6 linked regions of the Homo sapiens genome follow. The protein of the gene in region 1 interacts with the protein of each later gene in a pairwise test. Each region holds a gene or a part of one and is shown in the gene's direction. Other genes may lie near its edges.

What was found.
Region 2: the proteins of LUM (region 1) and GNAQ interact in a two-hybrid assay, tested with the Homo sapiens proteins (one large-scale study listed by BioGRID and IntAct).
Region 3: the proteins of LUM (region 1) and LMO3 interact in binary tests that used the Homo sapiens proteins (3 or more experiments, as listed by UniProt).
Region 4: the proteins of LUM (region 1) and YWHAG interact in binary tests that used the Homo sapiens proteins (3 or more experiments, as listed by UniProt).
Region 5: the proteins of LUM (region 1) and SETDB1 interact in binary tests that used the Homo sapiens proteins (3 or more experiments, as listed by UniProt).
Region 6: the proteins of LUM (region 1) and CFTR interact in a protein complementation assay, tested with the Homo sapiens proteins (one large-scale study listed by BioGRID and IntAct).

The regions. Positions count from the first base shown.
Region 1 is NC_000012.12:91,101,788-91,105,797, reverse strand, and holds the end of LUM (lumican precursor), read left to right. Parts: intron 1-1,478; coding exon 1,479-1,633; 3' UTR 1,634-3,169; downstream 3,170-4,010.
Region 2 is NC_000009.12:78,021,298-78,025,624, reverse strand, and holds part of GNAQ (guanine nucleotide-binding protein G(q) subunit alpha), read left to right. Parts: intron 1-4,327.
Region 3 is NC_000012.12:16,551,018-16,554,989, reverse strand, and holds part of LMO3 (LIM domain only protein 3), read left to right. Parts: intron 1-3,662; coding exon 3,663-3,768; 3' UTR 3,769-3,972.
Region 4 is NC_000007.14:76,352,492-76,355,991, reverse strand, and holds part of YWHAG (14-3-3 protein gamma), read left to right. Parts: intron 1-3,500. UniProt on the Homo sapiens protein: Adapter protein implicated in the regulation of a large spectrum of both general and specialized signaling pathways. Binds to a large number of partners, usually by recognition of a phosphoserine or phosphothreonine motif.
Region 5 is NC_000001.11:150,932,482-150,936,808, forward strand, and holds part of SETDB1 (histone-lysine N-methyltransferase SETDB1), read left to right. Parts: intron 1-4,327. UniProt on the Homo sapiens protein: Histone methyltransferase that specifically trimethylates 'Lys-9' of histone H3. H3 'Lys-9' trimethylation represents a specific tag for epigenetic transcriptional repression by recruiting HP1 (CBX1, CBX3 and/or CBX5) proteins to methylated histones.
Region 6 is NC_000007.14:117,612,076-117,616,402, forward strand, and holds part of CFTR (cystic fibrosis transmembrane conductance regulator), read left to right. Parts: intron 1-2,537; coding exon 2,538-2,638; intron 2,639-4,153; exon of another isoform or gene 4,154-4,265; intron 4,266-4,327. UniProt on the Homo sapiens protein: Epithelial ion channel that plays an important role in the regulation of epithelial ion and water transport and fluid homeostasis. Mediates the transport of chloride ions across the cell membrane.

The DNA.
Region 1 (4,010 bases):
ATGAGTAAAGGATGGAAGAGAGGTCTATGGGAGAAAGGCCAACGGCCTGTCAGTGCCAAGCTGAGATAGAAACCACAGTGCCCAGTACATAGTGGTCATTTGAAAAGGTAACATAATAGTTTCCTTTCTTTCTTCCTTATCTTTGTACATTTAGTCAGGTATTCTCCTTGTCTTTTTATGTATCACCTCAGTTTAGGTTATTTTGCCAGATAATAATCAACTATATCAACATTTCACATTCACTTAATACAGAAAGTTCCCCTCAATGTTTTTTTCTAATATTAGGGAATATATAGCCAAAACAAACTGTTTTCTATTTCAAACTTGCAACTCTAAGCATTAGCCCAATCAGAGATCTTCCTAGTGTAGAGTAATTTAGAAAGACAGCAAAATCAAAAGGATATTAGTCATTATTTAGGACATACTATGTACTAGTATTGTGTGAAGTGCTCTACACAACTTAATTTAATCTTCATGCAACACGGTAAGATAGATGTGTTATTTCTAACAAGATCAGATAAGTGTTCCAGTGTTGCCCACCTGGGTAAGTGGCAGAGGTAGAATTCCAAGATGGGACTATGCCCATCTTCTTTCCATTTTTCCTCACTTTCTCAAATGTTGGTACCATAGAAAAATCCCTGGAATTAACTGATGAGTTATTTTAAAAAGCATGTGTGTTTGGGGTTCCACTGAAGTCTTTGTTAACTAGAGTTTGAAAATGAAAACAAGATAAAGGACTTGAAAATGTTAATCTAAAATAGACATAGGCAAACATAGTTTCTGTGTATACACAGGTCAGTCAATTCAGTAACACTCTTGGTTTCTATTACAAAGTAAGTCAGTGTTTCATTTGTGGCAGCTTTTTGACCATGGACAAAAATAAACAAATAAACAAAAACATGAGTTCAGATGGTGGACATGCCATGATTAGGTTTTTGCCTTAGAATTTTGATCATTGCTATGGTGTGTGATTGCTGGAATGATTTGGTTTTTGTCTTGGAATTTTTATCATGGTCATGGTATGTGGTTGCTAGAAAATTCTTTATAGATCATCTAGTTAACCCTTCTTATTTTTAGATGTAAAACCAAAGAGTACTTATACTGAGATTGTTCATACAACAATGGGATCCATTTATATTTCTTCAGGTTATACTATTTCAAAAAAGTTGTTAGATAATATGACACACTTATTGAATGCCTTTTTAAAAACAACTTCTAGTAATAAAATAAGTTCTGTTATTTAAAATATTCCACTGAATATCTTGATCTACCATGATTACTCTTTACTAAATGTTACTGTGCCATTTTGGTAGCCTGAAATATGCCTTTAATGGTTGCAAATTCAAACATATACTATATTATGACTTTTCTAAATGGGAAGAGGTCCTATTTTATAATATATTAAACATAAATTTTTTGTATTGTTTTGAGCCAGTGTACTGAAAAATGATTAATGTTTTCTATTCTTTAATTTTTAGAGTTTGACATAAAGAGCTTCTGCAAGATCCTGGGGCCATTATCCTACTCCAAGATCAAGCATTTGCGTTTGGATGGCAATCGCATCTCAGAAACCAGTCTTCCACCGGATATGTATGAATGTCTACGTGTTGCTAACGAAGTCACTCTTAATTAATATCTGTATCCTGGAACAATATTTTATGGTTATGTTTTTCTGTGTGTCAGTTTTCATAGTATCCATATTTTATTACTGTTTATTACTTCCATGAATTTTAAAATCTGAGGGAAATGTTTTGTAAACATTTATTTTTTTTAAAGAAAAGATGAAAGGCAGGCCTATTTCATCACAAGAACACACACATATACACGAATAGACATCAAACTCAATGCTTTATTTGTAAATTTAGTGTTTTTTTATTTCTACTGTCAAATGATGTGCAAAACCTTTTACTGGTTGCATGGAAATCAGCCAAGTTTTATAATCCTTAAATCTTAATGTTCCTCAAAGCTTGGATTAAATACATATGGATGTTACTCTCTTGCACCAAATTATCTTGATACATTCAAATTTGTCTGGTTAAAAAATAGGTGGTAGATATTGAGGCCAAGAATATTGCAAAATACATGAAGCTTCATGCACTTAAAGAAGTATTTTTAGAATAAGAATTTGCATACTTACCTAGTGAAACTTTTCTAGAATTATTTTTCACTCTAAGTCATGTATGTTTCTCTTTGATTATTTGCATGTTATGTTTAATAAGCTACTAGCAAAATAAAACATAGCAAATGGCATCACTGTGTTTGACTTCTTGTGAAATTTCTGTACTTTGTATATAAAATACATAAAACAATAGATTAGAAATCAAAAGATATCTCTGGCCTGCAATATTTTACTGATGTGAACATAGGATTTTCCACTAAATAATTTGTCTACTTCTAGCATTCACTTACAAAGAGTTCTTAAAAACACCTATAATAGGTACTTAGATTTCACAACTTACTTAGATATTTGTCATTATTCCCATTCCTGGTGTTTTTACTGGTTCATATACAATGGTATTCTATTAGATAAGAAGCTGCTATGTGATCTCAGCACTCACTCCTTGGTTGTCAAGAAATGGTGGATAACTCACAGGATTAAAAATGAATGAATATAAAATTTTCTGAAATAGATATTTAAAAAATCATTTTAGCTTGAAGCCAATATGTCTGGATCATAGGTTTTGAGTTCATAATCCAGTAATAACAGCTTTCAGCTTTCTATGAGTATATACAATTCTATACAATGATAAATACTCTGCATATAATTTATAAAAATAACTTCTGTTTTACCTAGTTAACAATAAAACCTATGTGTGGAGCCAAATGTTATGCAGACAAAGGTCTGCTCATCCCATACCAGTGTATATATAGTCAAATATGTGTCTAGTACAAATAAAATGTATCTCTAAGGCATAAAATGTTTTAACACACCACTTTTAGTGAACTCTATCTTATGGTACAGCGGCCTTTCATCAGAGGATCATCATTGAGACTGAGTTGACTGGCAGATATGTGCGATGGATATTACATTAGGTACAATGTGTATTTTTGATTTTCATGAGTTTTCTACATTAAGGTAAATTCCTTAGAGTGTGATAGCAGCCTCAGTTTATTTGTTGGTTTAAACTTGAAATCTACTTTTTCTCGATAAAACTATAATGTAGATGAATTGAAAATGAATTTTCTTTTCCCTGTCTACAAAAGTCACTATCAAGCCTTGGAAACCTATTCTCAAATAGAGGGTAGATAATGTGCCATAAATTCTCTTTTAGAAAGAATGTGATGGAATTAAATGAGCTTTGTCTCTATACTACTTAGAGGAAACATCTTCTCAGCAGACAGTCTGTCTGCATCTTTAAAAGCCTTTGATTTCTCTCTATCCAAAGTCCTATGTTATTCTCATGCCTAAGAAGCAAAACTATGACTTTTAAAACAGCAGTTCCCTTTGTAGTTAATGTTGGTTGACAAAGACAAAGTTAAGCACTTAGTGACACTTTGTTGTAGAAGCATCTGGGAAAGGAATATACCCTGTTTAGGAACAACTCCTCTTTTTAGAGGGAAGACTTCATCTTTTCAGGGCAAAGCTGGAGAAGAGAAGATTCCCACTTACTCCTTCACTCACTGGGCAGCCCTAGTGAGGTGCTGAGGGAAGAAAATCTGGTGAAACTTTTATCAGCTTTCTCCTCATCTCTCCATCCTCACCCTATTTAGGGTAGTGTTTTTCAAAATGGTAAGTATATAACCAGCCTGTAAGGGTGTATTTCTACATCCAGGTTACCAGACATGCCCCAGATATACAGACGTAATGAATTGTGCAACATAGGATTTTGCATTTTTAAAGCGCATCCACGGGTGATTCTTATACCGGTGCTCAGTGTTGCATATTTTTCAAAACACCGACTTAGTGTGATACTATGATTAAGTTACTGAAATCACAAATAATTAAAAAGCAGAAAAGTACTCTTTTCTAGGGAGGCAGAATAGAAAGTAGCCTGCTTTTCACAGCATAT
Region 2 (4,327 bases), on another chromosome or scaffold:
GGTTGAGGAAAATACAAGTTTGTGAAGCAACAAATTTTAAAGTCAAATTTCCTGGTTGGAACGGGAGGCAGTCACATTTTTCAAAGGAAAACTTTTGTAATGCCTTTTAAGTTATGTTAAGATCTCTGCAGACTTAATCCTAGTGAAGTGTGAAATAGCAATAGAAGGTAAAATGTGCGATTGTTGGTAATTAAATCTGTGGCAATAACTGACTACAGTAAACCGTGAACGTTTACTCTTGTTCTGCCGAATGGAGTAACATTAAAGAAAGAGCTGCTCTCAGACCCAAACACTATTTTGTGTGAATAGCTGTTACTGATAAAATTATAGGAAGTTGTTCAACAATCACCTTTGATTTGTTACATTACCGATATGTAAAAAATAAAATTATAGGAAGTTGTTCAACAATCACCTTTGATTTGTTACATTACCGATATGTAAAAATCTGTCTGATTTCTCATCTAACATGTAGTAAAAGGACCTAGGCATACTGATGAAATGAGTTAACACATCCTAGGTGGTCATGAATTTGGGCTTTAAAAACAAAAATAAATGTCCATGTTGCAGTGCCGAGAATCCCAAATTGGATTAACTATACAGCTCTGTTGTTAACCTTTATACATAGCCATAATCAGTGCAGAATATTTTGTTAAAAGCCTTTATGGTTAATTTTAAAGAACAAAATTAGTATTACTTAAAAATCAAATTATGAAGATATCTCAAATCCATTTTTTCAACATATACTTGTCAGTTATTAAAAAATATTTCCTCTAATTTTTTTTTTTAACCAGGCATAACTTAAGAAGGAACAGTTTCATGCAGAATGCTAGTCAAATGAACAAATATGAGCACCTACTATGTGCCAAATAATGTGCTGTGTGAGATGCTCCTTATGTCTTATTTGCCGACAGGAAAGACTAAGCACTTTGCATAGTTCTTGTATTGTAGCTGATGTCCTCGTACTGACATGCCCTTCTGACTTTATCCTTCCTGGCTTTGGCTTTTCTATTGGGTTTTCATACACAGAAAGAGACAAAATAATCTGAAGGCCATTGTAGGAGCTTCCTGGGGATCACAGGACTGGGGAATGCGGATGATTTTACCTTGTGTTTCTAAGTGGATTGGAAGCTCCGTGAAGGCAAAGATCCTTGCTCTTGTATCTTTATCGCAATTCCTGATGATTCTATTATCAGTAACTAGGGATGTGTGTGGAAAGCTGGATTCCAAAAAGAATGGAGGGTAATCGGAAGAAGTGAATTTAAATTCCCTGCTTTCTTCTAATAGGCATCATCCATATGTCCTCCATTTTCCACTCCTCTTTGCTGTTTTGTGGGCCACCGGGCGCACAGTGAAAGGAATTCCGTTTTAAAGATGGAACAGTTTTTGCCTTCTTGCCTTCCTCTCATTTGTTCTCTTGGGACAATGTTTCGGTTGAACATTCTCATATTGTTTCCAGTTAAAAGCCAATAGCAATTGATCCAGCTGTTCCAATGGAAAGCTGTTACACACACAAGTTCTTTGAAATCTGACAATCTGTGCACCTTTATTACAGGATTAATCATGGATTGTGAACAATATGTCTGCTTTAGAAATAAAATAGTTGTTTTCAAGTAATGGATTGTGGTGCAGTTGGGAACGAAAATGTTACTAATGCCATTATAGTGTGTGTGTGTGTATATACACACATATACAATATGTGTGTGTTTATACACACATAATTGACCCACAAATTAAAGAAAAAGAGATCTAGCCAGACTTTTTGGCTCTGTTACCGGAAGCGAACAGTGATGTTTAGACACATAGTTACATATATTTCTAGGAGATAGCCTCATTTTTTTTCCCTTTGGAAAACTAAAATCATGAATTAATTGTGCTTTCCAAGAATTTTTTTTTTAATCAGCATCACTTGCTAAAAAATAGAAATAGAATTTTTTTGTTTCTTTTTTATGTTGAAAAATTTTTTTCATTTTTATTGTTTCTTTCCTACATTTTCTTTTACTGTAGGGGCAACAGGGTGATTGGTGAGATCTTCTACCACCATGTATTTACTGGTAACTGCAGGCATCTAGTTGCTTCTAAAGAGGAATGCTTCTGTGATTTACCCAGTCCCTTTTCAGTCTACCAGTGATTTCTGTAGCCCCCCTACCCATCCCTTTCATGTGAATACCACCCACCCATTTAATTCCTCATCACATCTTTCTTAAACAGATGCTAAAGAGGTTCCTCAGATTCTCTGACTTGCACATTTGCATACGATTTAGAGAACTTCCAAGTTGGTGCTTCTGTGAGACATCATGTGGCTGTGAGCTGGTGAGAGGGGAAGTTGGGTGCTTTAATACATTCAAAGGAAGGAATTTGTGAGTGTGTGTTTAGGCAATGATTAACTTTCTTTTGCAATACTTACTCTGGTCCGTAAAGCAAAAATAAATTGTTACTGAACACAATGTAAAATCCTCCTTCCTTTTCCAGAGGGCAGGGACTTGAGATTGGTTCATGATTACCAGCAGAGAGTTAGTGAGCCAGTGCTGGATAATCTATCACGGACCAGTGGGTTTCAGAATCGGATGCAGTGCGTATGCTGGAAGGGGAGAAGGTGCTGTAGGCATGTGTAGGCATCTTCCTCACTTAATGATTTGAAAACCCTCTTCTCAGTGACTTGCAAGCCTTAACATCTTTTTCTGATTGTATTTCCATACAGATAGTTAAGGGTGATGGCAATAGCAGTGGCCTTTACTTTTGTTATACCCAATCAGCCTGAGTACATTTTTGTGGTGGGTTTGTTTTGGTATTTTCTTGCCATGTGAATTGATATTTAGGACCTGCGCTTTGCAGAGCTCCTTCATTATAGTATGCGTTCTTTCTGCAGATGGCAAATGCAATTTTCCTCTTGTCCTAGAGAGATGACCCATTTCCTGTGACTTGTTCTAATAATACAAGATGACTTTAATTTTTGTTCAGTTTGCCTTTAAAAGATTGCCAGGTTTAACTCTCTTGTCTCTGTAACTCTTGTGATATATTTTTGAGCATTGGTAAGACATGTAATAATTTAAAAACAATGGCAGACTAATTTTGTGAAAGTTTTTTATTTTTTATTTTTGGCTAAATAAGCACCTTTTATGGCTGTGCATTTTGGATTCGTTACATATATCTTTTCTAAAATCTGTGACTGAAAGTGGGGTGAAGTATTCCTGCCCTGCTTACTGAATCTTTTTTTCCCACATAACTAACCTCAGGGTATTTTGATCATTTGCTTTTTCTATAAAAACCTGTAGAATGAGGAGATTGCAGCAGATGATCTCTAAGGACCATTTGAACTTTGAATTTTTTTCTCCTTCCCCTTTGCAGCTTTGGCGTCTCGGCCACTTTCTGCCCAAACTCACCCCTGGATGAAGGGTCTAAGCTTGCTGCTGTCTCCAGCAGTGATGGGCTCTACTAGGAGGCATTGCCAGGTCTGGTGGGCTCCTTCGGGTTGGCCTGGCTCTTCTCTTTGACCTCTGTAATAACTCTGAGTGCCCTGCAGTGGGGAGCACTTTGAGGGGGGCCTGTGAATGAAGCCTTAGCAAGTCTGTCCAGAGCTCCCCTGGTGCCGCCTGGCATGCTGCTGATAGTTTGCAATGTCTTCACAAGAAATGGTATCAGAAACCTCCTGTCATATCAGCATGGGTCTCTTGCTTCCTGCAGGAAGGGCGATATCCTGGGAGGCACAGAGGTGGAGCCCGAGAGACGCAGTGTTCCAGCGCTGCTCGGCTCAGGACTGGGTCTTTTCTTCCGTATCCTCAAGCAGCTTCCTTTGACTTACTACTTCTTTTTGTTTGTTTTTTCTTCATTGGGCTTTAAGCGTTGCTTCTCTTTAGTGTATGTGTGACTGAAGCCAAACACAACATTGCTTTCCCTTTGCCTGCAAATAATCTTGTTGCCCAAGCCCATCTCTGCCATTTTCAGTGACAGCTGGCTGGCCAATGAGCCTGAGCACTGGGAATGCCCAGCAGGGCACATCTAGGGGGCTGCTTTATATTTGGAGCTAGCAGGTCTCTTTTCTAGGGCTTTCCAGGAAAGATTTAGAATTAAACATTGGATGGATTTTGTGTGTTCATTTCTTTTTCCATCACTGTGCCTTTATTTTCTTGGGGCTTTCATTAAAAGCAGAAAAACAGATAATGGTAGAAACATCTATAGCATGCATACAAAGAAGTAAAAGATTTTTATAATTTTTTGCCTTAAAATATATCTAATGCTGTGGCCTCTGAGCCATTCTCAGTTGGTATGACCATGATCAGAGAAACCTTAAGAAATCAGCTTTGCCAGGTGTGGTGGTTCACGCGTGTAA
Region 3 (3,972 bases), about 75 Mb from region 1:
GAAAGTGGTAGACTCAAGATTTAAACCTGGCCGGGCGCGGTGGCTAATGCCGGTAATCCCAGCACTTTGGGAGGCCGAGGCGGGCGGGCGGATCACGAGGTTGGGAGATCGAGACCATCCTGGCTAACACGGTGAAACCCCGTCTCTACTAAAAAATACAAAAAAATGAGCCGGTCGAGGTGGCGGGCGCCTGTAGTCAGAGCTACTGGGGAGGCTGAGGCAGGAGAATGGCGGGAACCCGGGAGGCGGAGCGAATCTGGTCTCCCTCTCCGGAGTCAGGCCCATTTCAAGAGAGGTATTTTATTTTCTGACTAAGAGCATATAAATGTGAATAGATATAGTGGACTTAAAGTAAGGTAAACTTTGAATAATGTATAGCAAGATTTGGGGTGTGGGTAGTGTCATTTGATACACTAAGGGTTGTTAGCAGTGAGATGTATAATGACAACCGGACTGTCAGTGGGAAAGACAGTAAATTTGTTCACAGGTGTATAGTGGAGGAATGAGTACACAACCCGGACTTCTTATTGAAAACAGTATAGTATAGAAATCTCTAACTTACAGTTAACTGAAGATGTGGAATAGGAAAGTATAGACACTAGAAATATGGATTGGAGCTCCCTAGCTAAGTGTTGTAAGATAGAAATTAATCATAATTGTCAGTCACTAACATTAGGGAAAGAAGATGGCTAGGCTAACATTTTTATTTCTTAAAAGGGATGTTACCAGTGGAGGCTTCTTAGCATAGGCTTTTGATAACCTGCTTAAAACTAAGCACTATATTTTATAAGGATGATTTACTATTTACACTTGTTTCATATACTTCTCAAGTCTCTAAGACTATATGAAGTCAGCTAAATCACTCAAAAATATCTAGAAATTACATCTCATATTAATTCCAAAACATCAGAATTAGATGGTTTAATAATCTAATTGGGCATCTTCTTATTCCTTACCATAATTTTTTTAAATGAGGGTAAAATTAATTGAACTGAGCATACTACAAGTAATTAGGGTCAGATTACAAGAAAGATTATGTTTATTTTTAGTAATTGTAGCCTGTTAATATACTTACAGTATCCTCTGGCTATCACTCCTTTCATAATGCTTTTTTTTTTTTTTCCTGCAAATGCTGAATCTCATAAGAAGTTGGTTAAATCACACTGGAAATTAGCATTTCTTACAAAATCACAGTTACAGATTAATTTGTTAAATACATACTATCTGTATTGCTGTCTCTGAAATTTCTTTATATTTATATATGAAGCATTTTTTAAAGAGGATGTCAACCTTAATTGCATACCAGTCGTAATCTGCTCTTAACCACAGCTTTCAAGGCTGTTTTGTTTGAGTCATATGTGCAAGTGTGACATCCCTCATCCATGTTCGTTTCATCTTGACCTTTAAGTATAAATTGAAATGCATATAAAATGCACTTTATCCAGTTGATAACATATTAGTAATAAAATATGTCAGGTAGGAATATTTTAGAAAAGTTCTGTCTCTCTCTCGCTCTGCCTCTGTTGCTCTATATATACCACTTAATTGAATAGTAGGCAGACTTTTTTAAAGTTATGCAAAAGAAATAATAGTAATACAAAAAACACAGTTACACCCTGTATAACCATTTAATCTTCACATTATTCTTGTAGCCTGCATGCTTTACTGCCCTCAGGTAAAAGCTTGAGTCTTGAATCCAAAAAGGCCTGGGTTATTTTTCTTCCTTTACTATAAACGTTTTAACTACAGAATCTTGGGCAGGGCTTTGAAATTCTGGCACGGAGTCTTAGGTTTTTCTTCTGTAAAAAGCCATGACAATGCTTACTTTCTAGGTTGGATGTAGGGAATAAATGTGATCATGTACATACATGCTTAGCATTTAGCACATGGTAAGCATAAAAAGGTGGCTATTTTACCTATGTTTCAAACATTGAGGTAAGATTTTAGATATTTCATTTCTACTCCTTGCCACAAGCCTACAAAGTCGACTGATGTCACAGGTATTAAAAACCAAAGTTTTATTTTCAATTATCATAAGTGGGAAGGTAGAGTTTGGACCCTACTGGTTGCAGTATACCTCTCTGCCTTTCAGACACTTTTCATTTGATAAGGATATCAAACTGGCTTGCACAAACACCATTATTGAAGTGCAACATTTAAAGTATACAGGTTACAACTAATACAAAGAAAATATACTTAAAGCCCCAAACTTGAATGTTCATTGTATCCAGTAGCTTTGACCACAAACAACCCTAGGATTTCAAGATCAGTGCATAGTCTGTGCTTTCAATCAACATCATCAGCAGGCAGTAATCCTGGGGAAAAAAAGTAAATTCCACAAATAGACCAATTTTCCTTTAAGAGGAAAGCTAATTCTTTTCAGTCTACTTTTTTTATTACACTATTTTCCTCTCTATCTACTTAGCTAGTATAAGGATAAATTTCCAAAGCTACCCAGTTGGAAAAAAATAGGTTCACTGTTTGTCTAGCATTCCAATCTTTGCAAATGTAAATCAGTCCAACTGCTCCTCATTTAAACCTTCAACTTCACAAAACATTAAAGGGTGGCTTTCACTACACAATTTAATCTATCCACTAAGATTTCTGCTGGAACATCATTTGAAATTGACTATCTGATAAAGAGAGACTACTATCAAAGGTCATAGAGGTCAACTTGTATAATTACAAGTAGTTTTACTGGGTCAACTCTACCAGACACCACTATTTGAAGGTTAAATTGTTACAATTAAATATATATACAGATCTCCCCAGAGTTACTTTATTGTTAAATGTACCAGAAACAGAAAAAACATTTATTTCTGACCTTAATTGTGTCCAAAGTGTCACCGTGGGGAAATCATACAGAAAGAACACTTATTAAAAACATTGCAGTCTTGCACATTAAACAATGCTTTATGAAATAAAATGCATAATTAGCTATTGGAAACTAGTTTAGTTTATCACATCAATATTAAGTAGTTCATTTAGGTTACTCCCTTTGGTTGAATTGGAAGTGCTCTAAGAAATGACATCTACTATTTCATGTTGGTGAACTTGCCACAAACAAAGGAAAATGGCTCAGCATCAGAATCTGATGCTAGAGCAACTTTCATTTCAGAATGATCACTTCTAGATTACTAACATTTAATCACATTTTAATAACAGAGTAAAAGAAAGCTTTAAATGGGAAGCTTTAAAATAGGCTATTTTCTAATTGTTTGATTCATTTTAATGCCTTTTACTTTTTTATTAAGTGCCTAAATGGCCAGAGATGAAATCATCCATAATTACTGCAGTGAAACATTATTATCATTCTTTCTTTTATTTTAATGGGTGTAAATACAGATCAGTTCTTTTTATTTTTTTTCTTTCCAGTGTGGTTTAAAAAAAAAAAAAGCAAGTCATCTTTGGTGCCCAAAGTGTTTATCTCAATATCCTTAGAATTTTTGCATGCAAAGGCAAGATTTCAAATGTGTGCAACATTTCATTAAATGAAGTAAATGGTAAATGGTCTAATTCTGATAATGAAGACAACTGTCTAAGCCAGGTTTTCAGATTCAGGGAATTACCATGCGAAACTATTAATAGGAAAATAAATCTTCAAATTTCTAGATCCAAGTGAAATGGTCTTAACCACATTTTATTGTTTAAAATATTTTCAGATTTTGTGTTGGAGACAAATTTTTCCTAAAGAATAACATGATCCTTTGCCAGACGGACTACGAGGAAGGTTTAATGAAAGAAGGTTATGCACCCCAGGTTCGCTGATCTATCAACATCACCCCATTAAGAATACAAAGCACTACATTCTTTTATCTTTTTTGCTCCACATGTACATAAGAATTGACACAGGAACCTACTGAATAGCGTAGATATAGGAAGGCAGGATGGTTATATGGAATAAAAGGCGGACTGCATCTGTATGTAGTGAAATTGCCCCAGTTCAGAGTTGAATGTTTATTATTAAAGAAA
Region 4 (3,500 bases), on another chromosome or scaffold:
ATTTTGAAAAGAAGGAAAGAGGAATGTTAGGTCTTTTAAGACAGATGTTTAGTCTTGTATTGAAGGAGAGTGAACACCTAGATGTATCCTACGTATTAGACAATACTGTCTTGTCCTTTGACTTTTACTAGTCTCTTGAGAAGTTAATATTTTAAATAGGCTACTGGTACTTGCCTTGGGGAGAAAAGGTTCAGGGTTACTAATTTTGTTGAAGTTACTGAGTTAAGCAGTTTAACTCAATGAGGGGTGGGAGGGCAAAGGTGGCAAAAGGCTATCATAATTTTTCTAAATATTCCTAGTGGGATCAATAGACTTTCAAATTCTTTCTATCTTAAATATTCCATTCCCCCTCCCCCCCAGGCTCTTCCAGGAGATCAATAGCTATTATCACTAATGGAGTAATGGTACCTCTGTAGACTCTTCAGAGGTGGAGTTCTGCCAACCATTATTCTAAGTCATGTGGCTTGAATTGTTCTCTTCTTGGGCGTGGAAAGAATACAGATCATACAGCTTGCCTTTCATGTGTTAGCCTTCCCAGTAACTGAAGCAGATATTAAGTGCTTTTTCTGATTATTTTGGAAATCTATGTGTTTTTTGAATTCTACTGAGATTCAACATGGCGCTAAATGTTCATCCTCATTGCAGTCCTGGATTAACTGCAAACCTAAGAGTAGGATTTCATCTCTTGTACTCAGGGAAGCCTTATTTATTAAGCCAATCTTTAAATTATTGAAAAGAGTGGAGAAAACGATGTGTTTTTATCGAGGTAAAAGTTGCGTAACATAACTGTCACATAGTCACATCAGATTTCAAGTGCAATTGAGTGGCATTGGGTACATTCCGTGTTGTGCAGCCATCACCTATGTTGAAGAAGAGAGAAAGTGGTTATTTTTAAAAAGTGATGCCGGTCTGGACTACAGCTGGCTGGAATTCAGCACCTATTCAGGAATGTGTCGATAATGGAGTGCCCACAACAGCTCACAGCCAGCGATAATTGTCTATCCCTTTGTCTTCATTTCCAAGCGTCTGAACTGAAAAAAGGGAATTAGCTTTAGCTACGTTTGTACTGTATTTCCACTTAAAAAGTTATGGAACTTGAACACTGTATAATGTTCACCCAAATAAATAAGAACAATTTACTTGAAATCTGAGCAAATCGTTAACTCTTTGGGGATTATGGAAATTTTGCTGGTGTTCTAGTGACTCGTTTTCAGCCCTAAGGCTGGCTTTATTATCAGTGATTTGCCGCCTGTGTGGTAGTGGTTTCCTAATGAGTAGGATGCAGGGTTGAGACTGGGGAGCTCCTGCAGCATGAGGCTCTTAACTGATGGGACGCCAGCACAAGACATTCAGTACATTGTGGCTGTCAGGAGCTGGATGGGAAAAGTAGTTACTTTTCCCTTCTTTGCCCATTCCCAATATCAGCAGTCCTAACCTTATTTTATTTTATTGTATTTTATTTTAATTTTTTTGAGACGGAGTCTTGCTCTGTCACCCAGGCTGGAGTGCAGTGGGCAGTGGTGTGGTATCTCGGCTCACCGCAACCTCTGCCTCCCAGGTTCAAGTGATTCTCCTGCCTCAGCCTCCCAAGTAGCTGGGATTACAGGCACCCACCACCACGCCCAGTGAATTTTTGTAGTTTTGATAGAGACAGGGTTTCACCATGTTGGCCAGGCTGAGCTCGAACTCCTGACTTCAGGTGATCTGCCCACCTCAGCCTCCCAAAGTGCTGGGATTACAGGCGTGAGCCACCGTGCCCAGCCTCAAGGACCACTTTCTATGCTCGGTAGTCAAAGGGAAATACTACTTTTAAATGATATAAAACGTTATCTTCTCTTTGCCTTCTTTTGAAAGTTACTTAGTGTTTTACCAGATATTCCAGTCTATAATTATGTGTGCGTTTGATTGCTTGTTTTTTGTTTTTTTTTTTTTTGAGGCAAGGTCTCACTCTGTCACCCAGGCTGGAGCATGGCTCACTGCAGCCTCCACCTCACAGGCTAAAGCGACCCTCCAGCCCCAGCCACCCAAGTAGTTGGGACTACAGGAGCATGCTACCACACCTGGCTATTTTTTTGTACCGTTTTTTGTAGGAACGGGGTGTTGCCATGTTGTCCAGGCTGGTCTTGAGCTCCTGGACTCAAGCAGTCTGCCCATCTTGGCCTCCCAAAGTACTGGGATTACAGGTGTGAGCCACCACACCCAGCCCGGTCTATAATTATAATGCAGCTAAATGTTGCCTTTCTACAAAGGCTACCAATACCAGCTGCCTTATGGCCTCTCCTCTCAGAATTATTTTTCTGTATCTTCCCCAAATTCCATTTTAGGTGTCAGCTATCATTTTGATTAACTACCAAAACATATTATTTTACTTAAAATTGTCATTTGTAGAAATCTTGAAAATTTTGATATTTTGCTAAATGAATTTATGAATTTGAGTGGTAGAAAATTAGTTACACGAAAACTGATTTAAAAAATTCCCTGGGTCAGGCACGGTGGCTCACGCCTGTAATCCCAGCACTTTGGGAGGCTGAGGCAGGTGGACCATGAGGTCAGGAGTTGGAGACCAGCCTGACCAACATGGTGAAACTTGTCTCTACTAAAAATACAAAAAATTAGCTGGGCATGGTGGCATGCACCTGTAATCCTAGCTACTTGGGAGGCTGAGGCCGGAGAATTACTTGAACCTGGGAGGTGGAGGTTGCAGGGAGTTGAGATTGCACCACTGCACTCCAGCCTGGGTGACAGAGCAAGACTCCATCTTGAAAAAAAGAAAAAAAATTCCCAAAAGAAAGCTTTAATTTTAAGGTAAATAGTTATAAATAATTGGTTTGCTACCATGATTTTGTAGAAAAAATAAAAATTGTAAATCTTAAAAGACCATGTGCATGAGTCTTTTCTTTCTGTTTAAAGAACTGGTGAAGTCTTAGTTAAATTGCTCCCAGCATTTCACTTGTTAAGTGTGTGTCCTACAGAAATAGACTTTTCTTTACCTGAGTTGAATACTACTAATATGTGCTGCATGGCATTAAGTTTTGGTTATGGGCCGGATGTAGTGGCTCACGCCTGTAATCCCAGCACTTTGGGAGGTCGAGGTGGGTTGATCACTTGAGGTCAGGAGTTCAAGACCAGCCTGCTCAACATGGTGAAATCCCATCTGTACTAAAAATAACAAAAATTAGCTGGGCATGGTGGCGCATGCCTGTAATCCCAGCTACTAGAGAGGCTGAGGTAGGAGAATCACTTGAACCCAAGAGGCAGAGGTTGCAGTGAGCTGAGGTCATACCACTGCACTCCAGCCTGGGTGACAGTGTGAGACTCTGTCTCTAAAAAAAAAAAAAAGTTTTGGTTGTGAATAGGAAAGAGAGTGTTCTTACATAATTTAGATTTTTAACATAACATTAAAACAATAAAATTATTCCAAATAAACTCTTGGGCTTCTTAACCTTTGGAAGGGTACCTGTCTTTGGAGAGAGAAAGCCCATTTTGGTGAGTGGGACCCA
Region 5 (4,327 bases), on another chromosome or scaffold:
AATAATTTTAGATTTATAGAAAAATTGAAAAAGTAATAGAGTTCCTATATATCCCTCATCTAGTACATATGTCAAAACTAAGAAGCAAACACTGGTATATTACTTTTATATAAACTTCAGGCTTTATTCAGCTTCTGGACTTTTTCTGTTCCATGATCTAATCCAGGATATCACATTAAATATATTTCCAGTGTGATGTTTATTTTCTTCCTTTTACTTACTGGGTTTGATTTGTTCTTCTTTTTCTAGCCTCTCAAAGTGGAAGCTTACAGGATTGATTTTAGACCTTTCTTCCTTTCTAATATAAGCTCTAAAGCTATTTATTTCCCCGTAAGCATTGCTTTGCTGCATCTCATAAATTTTTTTCCATACAGTGTCACTCTCAGGATATCATACTTTTTTTATGTTGTGTTTTCAGCTTCATTAAACTTGGCATCATTTTTAATTTTCCTTGTGGTTGTTTGATTTCTAAATATTTGGGGTTTTTTTGATATCTTTCTGTTGTTAATTTTTAATTAATTTTATTGTGTTCAGAGAATATACTTTGTATAATTTTAGTCTTTTTGAATGAATGAATGAATGAATGAATTGATTGATTGACAAGGTCTCACTCTGTTCCCCAGGCTGGAGTGTGATAGCATGATCATAGTTCACTGCAGCCTCAACCTCCTGGGCTCAAGTGATCCTCCCACGTCAGCCTCCTGAGTAGCTGGAACTAAAAGTACATGCCGCCACGCCCAGCTAACTTTTTTTTTTGTAGTAGAGATAAGGTCTCACTATGTTGCCCAGGCTGGTCTCGAACTCCTGAGCTCAGGCAATCCTCCTGCCTTGGCCTCCCAAGGTGCTGGGATTATAGGCCTTAGCTACCATGCCTGGCCTATTTTGTCTTTTTTTTTTTTTTTTTGAGACAGTCTTGCTCCATTGCCCTGGCTGAAGTGCAGTGGCATGATCTCACTGCAACTTCTGCTCACTGCAACCTTTGCCTCCTGGGTTCAAGCAATTCTCCTGTCTCAGCTTCCTGAGTAGCTGGGACCACAGGCACGCGCCATCACACCCAGCTAATTTTTGTACTTTTAGTAGAGACAGGATTTCTCTGTGTTGGCCAGTCTTGTCTTAAACTTCTGACCTTAGGTGATCTGTCCACCTAAGCCTCTCAAAGTGCTAGAATTACAGGCGTGAGCCACTGTGCCTAGCCCTATTTCTTCTTTGTTGCCTTCTTAAAGTCAAACAAACATTTCAGAAAACCACTGTCATTCTTCTGATTTTTCTTTTTCTTTTTCTTTTTCTTTTTCTTTTTCTTTTTTTTTTTTTTTTTTTTGAGATGGAGTTTTCGCTCTTGTTGTCTAGGCTGGAGTGCAATGGCAGGATCTCTGCTCACTGCAACCTCCGCCTCTTGGGTTCAAGCGATTCTCCTGCCTCAGCCTCCTAAGTAGCTGGGATTACAGGCATGCACCACCATGCCTGGCTAATTTTGTATTTTTAGTAGAGACAGGGTTTCTCCATGTTGGTCAGATTGATCTCAAGCTCCCAACCTCAGGTGATCCACCTGCTTCGGCTTCCCAAAGTGCTAGGATTACAGGAGTGAGCCACCACACCCGGCCCCTGATTTTTCTTTTTTTTAGCTTTCATAAAAGGGGTTGCATCTGTACCTAATCATAATCTATTACAAATTAATACTGACTTAATTCTGGTAAAAATACAGCCATTTTGGCTGGGCGCGGTGGCTGACGCCTGTAATCCCAGCACTTTGGGAGGCCGAGACGGGCAGATCACGAGGTCAGGAGATCGAAACCATCCCGGCTAACACGGTGAAACCCCGTCTCTACTAAAAATACAAAAAAATTAGCTGGGCGTAGTGGCGGGCACCTGTAGTCCCAGCTACTTGGGAGGCTGAGGCAGGAGAATGGCGTGAACCTGGGAGGCGGAGCTTGCAGTGAGCCAAGATCGCACCGCTGCACTCCAGCCTGGGCGACAGAGCGAGACTCCATCTCAAAAAATATATATATATACACAGCCACTTTGCACCAGCATACTTCTACTTTCACTCTCTTCCTGTGTGATACTATTGTCAAATATATTATAGCTACATGTTTAAAGCCAATAATCTAGTGTTATAATTACTGCTTTAAGCAGTCTCATGTTTAAAGAAGGTAAGGGAAGAAAAGAAAAATATGTATTTACCCAGATATTTATCACTTCTGTTGCTCTTCATTCCTTCCTGTGGATCTGAGTTATCATCCAGTGTCATGTTTTTCCAGCCAGACGGTTTCCTTTAATATTTCTTGCAGTACAGTTCTGCTGACAGTGGATTCCCTCAATCTTCGTTTACCCAGGATATAGAATTTTTTTTTTTTTTTGTGACAGAGCTTTATTCTTGTTGCCCAGGCTGGAGTGCAGTGGTGAGATCTCAGCTCACTGCATCCTCCACCTTCCAGGTTCAAGCAATTCTCCTGCCTCAGCCTCCCAAGTAGTTGGGACTACAGGTGTGCACCACCACGCCCGGCTAATTTTGTCTTTTTAGTAGAGACAGGGTTTCGTCATGTAGTTCAGGCTGGTCTCAAACTCCTGGCCTCAGGTGATCCACACGCCTTGGCCTCCCAAAGTACTGGGATTACAGGCGTGAGCCACTGTGCCCGGCCCTACCTGGGATATAGAATTCTTGATTGACAGAGTTTTCTTTCAGTACTTCAAATACGCCATCCCTGTGCCCTCTGGCCTCTATTATTTTTGATGGAAAGTCAGAGGAAATTATTTTTGTATCATGTATATGAGTCAGTTTTGTCTTGCTGGTTTTAAGGTTTTCTTTTTGTCTTCTGGTGTTAGTTTGACTGGGATGTATCCAAGTTCTTTCTTAATCCTACTTGAGGTCCATTTAACTTCTTGGGTATGTAGATTCAAGTTTTTCACCAAATTTGGAAGTATTTCATCTGTTATTTCTTCATGGTTTTTTTTTTCTGTTCCCTTTTGTCTCTCCCTGCTTTCTGGGATTTCCATTACATATATGGTGGAATGCTTGACATTCATCTTTTCACAAGTCTCTGAAGCTTTGTTCATTTTTCTTCAATTTTCTCTCTGTGCTTTGGATTGGATAATTTCTCTATATGGGTATCTATATATTCTAGTTCATTGACTCCTGTTGTGACTCTGCCACTTAGCCCCTCTAATATGTATTTCATTTCAGTTTTTGCATTTTCAACTCTGGAATTTCTATTTGGTTCCTTATTTCATAGTTTCAGTTTCTCTTGAGATTCTCTTGTTGATTAAGTATTAGTATATTTTCATTTAACCTTTTAACTTAATTTCCTATCGTTCTTTGAGCATATTTATAAATCCAGTATCTGGGATCACTGAGAGTCAGTTTTATTGACAGGGTTTTTTGTCTTGAGTGTAGGTCACACTTTCATGTTTCTTTGCATGTCTCTTATCTTTTTGTTGAATATTGACTTTTAGATAATCTAGCAACTCTGAGTTTTAATTTATTTTCCTGAGAGTTCCATATCCTAGTTATTCTTTTCTTTTTTTTGAGACGGAGTCTCGCTCTGTCGCCCAGGCTGGAGTGCAATGGCGCAATCTCGGCTCACTGCAAGCTCCACTTCCCGGTTTCACACCATTCTCCTGCCTCAGCCTCCCGAGTAGCTGGGACTACAGGTGCCCGCCACCATGCCTGGCTAATTTTTTTCTATTTTTTTAGTAGAGACAGGGTTTCACCATGTTAGCCAGGATGGTCTCGATCTCCTGACCTCGTAATCTGCCCGTCTCGGCCTCCCAAAGTGCTGGGATTACAGGCGTGAGCCACCCTGTAGGCCTCTGTTCAGTTTTTTTATTTTAACTTTTAATTTTTTAGCTTGGCTTCCAAGTATTGACTTTTTTATTTCTATTTTTTGGAATAGTTTAGCTAGTGAGGCGAATGCATTCAGAGTTACATTTAGTTCTGACGTCTCCCTTGGCTTTGACTTCTTCAACATTGTGTTGATGCATGATGATTAGCTTATTTGCTTTTTGCAGCATGGTATTCCATTGTATGAATATGCCACAGTTTATCAGTTTTCCTGATTGTGGACATTGATTTACATTTTTTGAGATTACAGATAACACTACTGCAAATATTCTTGTACATGTCTCCTGATGCACATGTGCAGGAGTCTTTTTAGTGTATATACTGTAAGAGAGTCACTAGTTCTTAGGATATAGAAACCTCAACTTTATTTGATATATATTTTTTTAGACAGTATCTCACTCTGTAACCCAGGCTGGAGCACAGTAGTGCTATCATAGCTCACTTCGACTTCAGCCTCCCAAGTAGCTGAGACTACAGGCAAGTGCCACC
Region 6 (4,327 bases), on another chromosome or scaffold:
CCTGTTTTCACAGTTTTAAAAACCGATGCACACAGATTGTCAGATAGCAATTCTGTGATTGAAGGGGAAATATGTCACCTCTTCATACTCATATTGGTGAAGGGTCCTAGCTTCAAAATTAATAGATTCCTAAAGAGGGGAAATGAAACATCCGCATTTACACACACACACACACACACACACACAGAGTTCCTCTTGTCGGTAAGTTTTGTTTTTTTTAAATCTCTACTAGATAAAATTTGTTATCTAATTGTGAGTTTTACACAAAGAAAAACTGTCACAGAAAAGAAAGACAGTGTCACATTTTTCAAAAGAAAAAGAAGAAAAGAAAGTGCCATGTTTTTCAAATACAAATGTTCTGGATTGATTTTAGGATCTTTAGTGAAAAACAAAGTATTTCATAATAAGTAAAATAAAAATCTATGTAGGTAAATTTGTTTCTCTAATTTAAGAATTTGAATTTCTGAGTATTTATGATAAGTGTTGAAATAACTTCTTATATGTGACAGTGAATACTGGCAGAGCAAATGCCAAATCAATGCCAAATCTGTAGGATCATTTGATTGTAGGAACAGAATTCTACTCAAACCGAAAGCAGGCATTTGCTGGAGTTACAGAAAGGCCTCATGGAACACCGAGAAGGTGGTGCCATTCGACTCTTAAAGAAGCTGCAACAGGCACAAGAGAGTCAGCTGCAGCTCTTCTTCTTGAGTCTATATCTGTCCTGGGTCCATTCCTTTTTGTGGTTGCTTCATTCCTTTCTCTCTCTGAAGACTGGTTTTTCTGGTCTACCAGGGCTATGCCACATTGACTTTATGTAGTGTCTCCATTCTGGCCTCCTGAATTTACAGGAGAGTTCCTCTGTACAAACTCAAAGTCCTGGAGAGAACAGAAAACAGCTTCCTTTTGGCTCAGGGGTCCAACTGCAGTCTACTCTGCTGCTATGAGGATAGTGGGTTCACCACCTTTGTTGTTCTCTCAGCTAGGGCAGTGGGAAATGACTCTATGAAAGGAATATACATGGGCAGGCAAATGTACTAATCCTCATCAGTACTGTAATTTTAAGCAACTTTAAAAAATTCTTTTAAGTTATTTGAAAATAAGATCAAAGAAGGCTGAATTACATAAATGAAGATTTGTTAACAATTAATTCAAACCAATATAACACATGCTATAACATGGTTGAGTGTGATTGAGTCTTGATTTATTAGGGGCAATAATCAAAACATTTAACAATCATTATAGTACAGAACTTACCAATCAAATCAGATGCTCAGCCGGAGTGGATGTTGGCCACCCAGCTATTATTATCCCTGGCTCAATTGGTCTTCAGCTGTGTTAACTTGCAAACATTAATTAACTATCTAAGCCCCTCATTTTCCTCAAGTGTAAATAGACACAATAATATTACCTATTCCATAGGTGTGGGGTGAATAGTAAATGTAATAATTTGTCCAAAACACTTAGTATAGTGCCTGGTCCATGGTAAATACTAAATAAATGTTATCTGACTTATTATTAAAATTTTATCTTCTCAGCTTAACCTTCAGAACAGTAATATATTGGGGTCTAGATAAATCTTGCCTATATGAAAATAATTTAATACTACATGCAGATATATGCTGTGTATATTATGCCTTCTGTTAGAGGAATTGCAGAAACAAAAATTTCAATTAATAATAAGATGAATTATTTCTCCCAATTGTAGAATCTTTTGACAATTTTATCATGCATTACAGATGTAAGAACTCTTGATTGGGACTTGATAGTCTAACTTTATAATAATTTAAGAACATTCCTCTTAGAGAATTTCTATGGCCATAATACTGAACACATGAATTTTAATTAGCTGTCCTCTTTAGCCCTAAAAAAAAAATTACTGTAATTTAACACTTAAGTGTTGTTCTTCCCAGGTACAGTAATCTTTTTTTTTTTTTTTTTTTTTTTTTGCATAGAGGGTAATCTTTTCTCTTTCCAAATGGCAGAACTGTTAGTTTTCTGACTGTCCGGTGAAATTCTAAGTCCACTTACTTCCCAATAGCATGCAATTAGCAAAGGTCCTCCTTGCAAAGGCACAGAACACACCTAAACATCTTGCAGATGCTGTTTGGACACTCTTCCCCTGCTTTTGGTCTCTTTGTAAAGCAGCTCATCTGGATACAGGATCTCTTTTCCCCATTGCCCATTCTAATATATGTTACCGTTATTACTTATAGAATAATAGTAGAAGAGACAAATATGGTACCTACCCATTACCAACAACACCTCCAATACCAGTAACATTTTTTAAAAAGGGCAACACTTTCCTAATATTCAATCGCTCTTTGATTTAAAATCCTGGTTGAATACTTACTATATGCAGAGCATTATTCTATTAGTAGATGCTGTGATGAACTGAGATTTAAAAATTGTTAAAATTAGCATAAAATTGAAATGTAAATTTAATGTGATATGTGCCCTAGGAGAAGTGTGAATAAAGTCGTTCACAGAAGAGAGAAATAACATGAGGTTCATTTACGTCTTTTGTGCATCTATAGGAGAAGGAGAAGGAAGAGTTGGTATTATCCTGACTTTAGCCATGAATATCATGAGTACATTGCAGTGGGCTGTAAACTCCAGCATAGATGTGGATAGCTTGGTAAGTCTTATCATCTTTTTAACTTTTATGAAAAAAATTCAGACAAGTAACAAAGTATGAGTAATAGCATGAGGAAGAACTATATACCGTATATTGAGCTTAAGAAATAAAACATTACAGATAAATTGAGGGTCACTGTGTATCTGTCATTAAATCCTTATCTCTTCTTTCCTTCTCATAGATAGCCACTATGAAGATCTAATACTGCAGTGAGCATTCTTTCACCTGTTTCCTTATTCAGGATTTTCTAGGAGAAATACCTAGGGGTTGTATTGCTGGGTCATAGGATTCACCCATGCTTAACTGAGTGGTGCCAAATTGTCCTCAAGTCTGTTGTACTGATATATATCCCCATCAAGAGAGTACAAGAATTCTCATAGCTATGTATCTTCAACAACACTTGGTGTCTGGTAGATGTGAAGTGATTACTAAAAATATAGGGAAGCTGCATACATAATTATTGGCTTTTGCTGTTCTCTTACATTAATTTCTTATTCATGTTGATTACTCATTTGTCACCTAGTTTTTTCTTCCTTAATTAAATTGTAGGAATTTATGAATTATGGATTGATCATCAGCTCTATACATTTCAAACATAATCCCTCAGTCAGTGGCTTGGCTTATAGAGTCTTTTGATGAAAAGAAGCTTTTAAGTTTAATAAAGTTCAATTTATTGTCTTTTCCTTTATGTTTTGTGCTTTTGGTATCTTGATTAAGAACTCCTTCCTTATATTGGGTTCTCAAATTTAGCAGCATAACATTTTCATACTATTATTTAAATTTTTTTCACATTATTTAGTGATAGCACCTTTCTTATTCCTAAAGTGTTTATCATTGCCTTCTGTCTTTCTGCTTGATAAATATTGCCACACATTTGTATACTTTATTAGTGTGTACAAAGACCACATTTTAGTTGTGTTATTTCTCTTGTTTTGGTTTTCTAGAATGCAGAGCCATTAATATTATAGTAATGCTTATGTGCTAATACCATATCAGGGGCACAAATCCCATTGCAGCGGGACTGAGAAATTAAAGGAAATGATGCACATTTACTCATTTTTGTTTAAAAAATCAAATGCATATTTTTCAATCAGACTATATGGTTGGTCTGGATAGCTTCATCATTGAATTTTTAAAGTATTTTTGTACTACTGTATTTAAAATTATTCATTCACCACTGCTTTTGTAGATGGTTTAGAAACCCAAGTTAGGAATGACTGTGCAACACTATTATTATACTCTTTTTAAAATTATACTTTTTGCTTAAGTTTCTTTCCTTGTTCTCTGAGACAGTGTTCATGTTCCCAAACCACACACATTTATTCAGCTATAAAATTTGTATGATCAACTCCTGTCAGAACAAACATCATTATAAAAAATATCTCCAGGAAAAAGAAAACCCTTTTAATGCTCTCTTCTGGTTCATGTGTCTTCTTATTTTCTTTAAGCATTTTCATAACCCATTGAGCTGTAATTTAATTGGAACATGATTTATACTAAAGTTGGTTTCTTTACCTTTAACTTTTTTTTTTAGTTTGATCAGCTCTCTTTAGCTTCTGTAGTTCGGTCTTTAATTCCATTCCAGTATGCTTTTGGAGTTGGGTCTCATAAATGTATAGAAATGTTTCTGTTGGGAAACAGCAGGAGAATATTAAATAAATATTGTGCTTACATCTATTTAATTCTTTG